Linked DNA regions of Homo sapiens: region 1 is linked to region 2. A link means that fine-mapping ties the variant in region 2 to the expression of a gene that starts in the linked region. Tissue or cell type: whole blood. Region 2 holds a variant in brackets; the other region holds the start of a gene. All regions are shown on one strand. Distances are between the middles of the regions.

What was found. PIP is the estimated chance that this variant, and not a neighbour inherited with it, causes the effect.
Region 1: it holds the start of PTPRB-AS1, and the variant in region 2 is fine-mapped to the expression of PTPRB-AS1 in whole blood (TOPMed, PIP 0.91).

What each region holds. Positions count from the first base shown.
Region 1 is chr12:70,466,436-70,469,122 of GRCh38, forward strand. PTPRB-AS1 (PTPRB antisense RNA 1) reads left to right here and starts at 1,644. Exons shown (of 9, transcript XR_001749196.2): 1 at 1,644-1,892. RefSeq lists an enhancer at 1,373-2,345.
Region 2 is chr12:70,544,664-70,547,350 of GRCh38, forward strand. The region is part of intron 21 of PTPRB (protein tyrosine phosphatase receptor type B); the gene reads right to left. The region is part of intron 6 of PTPRB-AS1 (PTPRB antisense RNA 1); the gene reads left to right. Among named protein-coding and RNA genes, the nearest start is that of PTPRB-AS1, 78 kb to the left of the region's middle. The variant A/G (reference allele first, on the strand shown) is at 1,331.

The DNA.
Region 1 (2,687 bases), 78 kb before region 2:
CCTAGTCTGCAAGAGAAAGGGCTTCTGACCAAAATGGGCCGGGGATACCTCTCAGGTTTGATCTAAAGTAAACCTGTCTTCAACTGCAAGCTGTGTTTTGTGTTCCTTTCCTCTTTCTTTAACTCTTACATACTATAGTTTTCTTTTGACTTTTTTTTTTTTTTTTTTTTTTTTTTTTTTTTTTTGTCAGAGACAGGGTCTTATTCTATTGCCCAGGCTGGAGTGCAATGGTGTGATCATGGCTCACTGTAGTCTTGACCTCCTGGGCACAAATGATTCTGCCACCTCTGCCTCCTGAGTAGCTGGAGACAACGGGCACATGCCAGGACACCTGGCTAGTACTTTTTTTTATTTTTGTAAAGACGGTGGTCTCACTATGTTGCTTAGGCTGGGTCTTGAACTTCTGGCCTCAAGTGATCCTCCCACCTTGACCTCCCAAAATGCTGGGATTACAGGTGTCAGCCACTACACCCAGCTATAGTTTTCTTTTCGAAACATAGTTTTTCTCTCCAGTTCCTCATTTCTACCAAAGGCAAATCACAGTAGGACAAATCTAAGTTTTAGTCTTTTTATGCTTGGCCTGTGCTCCTTTGGGACACACACAGATAATTCAGGATAATCTCTCTATCTCAGGGCCAGCTGAGTACCAGCCTTAATTTTATCTGCAGTATTGGTTCTCCTTTGCAATGTAATCTAAATAGTCACAGGTTCCAAGGGTTAGGATGAGAACATCTTTGGCGGCCCATTATTCTGCCTGCCACATGAGGATACTAAAATATAATGAGGATAAAAATAGTACCTACTCACAGCATTGTACTGAGGAAAAGTACATTCTAGAGTTCTTACTTATCTTTGAGTAAGAATTTAAATATGAGCATTTATTATTATTAATAACAATCTATATTAGTTTGCTAGGGCTGCCTTAACAAACTACTGCAAAGTGAGTGGCTTAAAACAACAGGAGTATATTGTCTGTCAGTCCTGGAGGCCAGAAGCCTGAGATCAAGGTGTCATCAGCGTGGTTCCTTCTGAGGGCTTTGAGGGAAGAATCTATTCCATGCCTCTACCCTAGCTTCTGGCAGTTTATTGGCAATCTTTATGTTCCTTGGCTTGTAGATGCATCACTTGATCTCTGCCTTCATGTTCACATGGTGTTTTCCCTGTGTGCATGTCTGTGTCCAATTTTCCCCTTTTTATAAGGACACCAGACACATTGGATTGAGCTCATTCTACTTCAGGGTGACGTCATCTTAATTAGTTACATCTACAATAATCCTCTTCTCAAATAAGGTCACATTCTGAGGCGCTGGGGGCCAGGACTTTAACATATGAACTTTTGGGATATTTGGCTTAACCCATAACACAATCCAAAGGATAGGACTAGGACCATAGGATGGAAGGCATAGGAAGAGCATCATCATTTTCAGCTAATTTTTAAATTTTTTTTTAGAGATGTCTCTCTCTCTCTCTCCTGCCACCATGTGAAAAAGGTGCTTGCTTCCCAACTTTGCCTTCCACCTTGATTGTGAGGCAGCCAGGTGGGTGAGCGTCCCTGCAGAAACTCCAACCTGCCGGCCCACTGAGGTGGAGCCCCGGGAGGTTCACACCCTTTGCAGCAGGGAGGAGCCTGGCCCCTCCTCTTCCTGTTTGGAACCTGGGATTCAAATGGCCTGGCAGGAAGTGCTCTAGCAGAGGGACTCTGGCCTTGCAAGAGTCCCTATTTCCCCCTTTTTTTTTGCTTTTCACACAGTAAAACCCTGCTTTACTTCCCTTTGAGTCGTCTGTGAGCCTAAATTTTTGTGGCTGTGGGAAGGACAAGAACCCCATCTTTAGCTGAAATAAGGAAAAGTTCCGCAACATTTTTGGCACACACCCTGGGGGCTCCGGAAGTGGTGAGTGAAATGGTAACTCAAAACCTCTCACTGTTGCTTCTGAGCCTTTTCATCCTCAAACTTCTGAAGGTGGGGGAAACCATGTCCCCACCCCACCCCTCTTCACTCCTGGGCCTTTTCATGTCCTCCTTCCTTTTTTGGGACCGACTGGGGAACAGAAGCTCCCTTCTCCCTTATCTCCTTACCTCTCCCTTACCTCCAGGGGCTGAGACGCATGGACCAAGGGTCCGGCATAGCTGGTTGGCAGTCCCCACCCCACAGAACTGCTGGAGCGTTCTCCTTTCCCAGTCAAGGGGTTTTACTCCATCTGACAGTAATTGAGCTTTTCTCCTGGTGGAGGAACCACTTGCCTAAGAATAAGAGATTCTTCCCCAGGCACTTTAAAACTGTTCCTTTTCTTTCCCCTTCTCCACCCTGTCAACAGTTAACCTTTACAGTTTTTTCCCCCCATTTACTAGGCCAGGCCCCCAAACTATCACTGTTTAAATTTTCTGTAAACCTTTAATTATGAAAAAGGATTTGTGGGGCTAGTCTTAGGCTGTGGCCAATCTGGTGTGTTTTGCATGTCTATATGGTTTGTGCTACAAGCCTCCACCTTGCTTTAAATCCTGGGGGCATGGCCAGTAACAGCTTGGCAAGGCTTTGTTTAGCAACCCTGCCTTAGGGGATGAGCCCTCTCTGGTTCCTTATCTGCATGTTTTTTTTTTTCTTTCTTTCTTTTTTTTTTTTTTCTTTGTTGCCCAGGCTGGAGTGCAATGGCGTGTTCTTGGCTCACCACAACCTCCGCCTCCTGGG
Region 2 (2,687 bases):
CTGAAAAGAAAACCGATTTATTTAAATATAAATTAGTTGTTGAACACAGTAGCTGAAAAATGTGTTCAAGGAGAAATAGGGCGGGTTCCTGGTCAGTGGGTAGCAGGGTAGAATATGAGTTATGGAATCGGATAGACCTGGGTTCATGCATTCATTCATCAATTTATTCATAAATATTTATTGAGCCCCTGCCACACGCCAATCACTGTTCTAGTAGCTGGGACTTTGCAAGGAACAAAACAAAGTCCCTGCCATTCCAGAGGTTACATTCTCATGGAGGAAGTCAGACAATAAACACACAAATATAATAAATCAGATGAGATGTGTGCTATGAAAAAGAAAAGAGCAGGGTAAGGAAGATGGAAAGCAATGGGAATAAAGCATGTGGGACTGCTTCATTCAGAATGGTAGTGATGAAGGCAGTGAGTGAGAAGTGTTGGATATATCAAAGGAAGAACTAAAAGATTTGCTGATGAATATAGAGTATGGATGATTCCACATGTTCTGGATGGGGAACAACTGGAAGAATGGAGGTGTCACCTACTAACATGAGGGAAAACTATTGAGAAGTAGACTGGGGGGTTTGGGAAGATCCAGACAGATCAGTTGTGGAGGAAGTAATTCCGAGATGCCCATTAGAGAAGTCAAGTGGCCCAAATATCAATATTATTGTTGTTGTTATTTTAACTTACATATCTTTTGGCACTATTTTCTAAAGATCATTTTATCTAAAAATATTCTAATATCATATTTATTGTCAACAGGAAATATTTGTTAAAGCACTGCTTTATAAATTGCTGAAGTTAAAAAGAGATGTATGGTCACTAGTCTTGGAAACTTGAAAGACAAAATACAAAGGAATCAGGCAAATAGCAAAATAAGAAAGCATATATACAATGGCAAATGAGGAATGGTAGAATATGGAGGAAACAGTGTGTGTGGGCATAGGAGGTGAGGTGGCTGGAGCAGAGAGCTCAATGAAGAGACTGCTGGGATAGTCAGGCCAAGGACACAGGGCCCTGGCCAGGAGCCCTGGCAATGAGAATGGAAAGAAGACTGTGAAAGGCACTGAGAGGAGGAACTAGATGGGGCCCAGACTGAAGAGAAGCAGGGGAGAATCAAGGATGGCCTAAGACTTGAGCTCATGTCACTCAAGAGAACAGTGGGATCATTGATAGAAATAAGGAGACAGGCTGGGAGCGGTGGCTCACGCCTGTAATCCCAGCACTTTGGGAGGCCAAGGCAGGCAGATCACCTGAGGTCAGGAGTTCGAGATCAGCCTGGCCAACGTGGCAAAACCCCGTCTCTACTAAAAATACAAAAATTAGCC[A/G]GGCATGGTGGCGGGCACCTGTAATCCTGGCTACTTGGGAGGCTGAGGCAGGAGAATCACTTGAACATGGGAGGTGGAGGCTGCAGTGAGCCAAGATCATGCCACTGCACTCCAGCCTGGGTGACAAAGCAGGACTCCACCTCAAAAAAAAAAAAAAAAATGACAGACTGGTGAAGGAGGATATGCTTTGCTTGGGATATACTCGATTTAGAGGGACAGTGAGGCATTGATTTACAACTATCCAGCTGACACTGGCATTATTCCAGTCACCTGAGCAGGAGAGTTGCTGAGGTGGCTGTCCACATGTCCATGTGGGATAGTGCCTGAAAATCAGCTGGTCCTAAATTCAATAAACAAGCAAGATGCAGCTACAAACACACAGATTTGTAACCTCTGCTTGAATGAGAAGCCTGTGATCCCTATCATAGGACCTAAGTTTCATGCTCTCTGCATAAGTCAGCCCAGTCTGGAGAGCTGCACTCAATTTCTGGGGGCATATTTTAGGATGAATTAGAGATCATTTGAGTGACTGACCTGAACAATGATAGAGAAGACTTCAAGGGACATAATATAGTTAGCTTCAGATTTAAGGAAGACTGCCATGTAGAAGAGGAAAACAACATGATTATTTTTCTTCTTGAAGGAAGAATTAGGCTCTGTAGGCTGAATTTATAAGGAAGGAGGAGTTTAGGAACATTAAGCTGTTTTCTAACATTAGAATATGAGCTGCCTCCTAGGTTGAGAGCTCCCAGTCACTGGGGGTTGGAAGATGGGAGTGGGATTCTAGTAGAGGCTGGAGGAGAAGCAGTCCCAGGGAGGCTGGAGGAGAAGCAGTCCCAGGGAAGCTGGAGGAGGGCATCGCTGCTCTAAGTTAAAGATTGGCTTGGGTGACTTCTTAAGTCCCTCCTACTGTGAAGATTCTCTAATTGAACTGATGGAGTATTAGGCTTGGTTTATGTGGGAAAACTTTTGCTAGTGTTAATTTCAATTCTATGAAAGTGACGAGAAGTACTCCTTTTTTTTTTTGTTTTTGTTTTTTTAAAATCTATATTTCTTGAACCCAAAGGTATCTGGGCATGTCCTGTGATAATGCTGAAGCGGTACTAGGCCAGGGCAAATTGTTCTGACCCTGCTCCCGCTTCTTCTGACTTATGCCCAGATCCGAGTGTAATCCTGTAAAATGAACATCAAGATGATATTGATAAATCACATCTATAACTTCCATCTCCAAAAGATCCATTCCAAGTCAAAAGGTGTTCTTCCAGGAATAACAGCCTGTTAATGGAAGTATATTGAGAAAGGTCCACAAAGGGAAACAAGTAGTCACCACACATTAAAGGGGAAGGTGAGGAGTTGG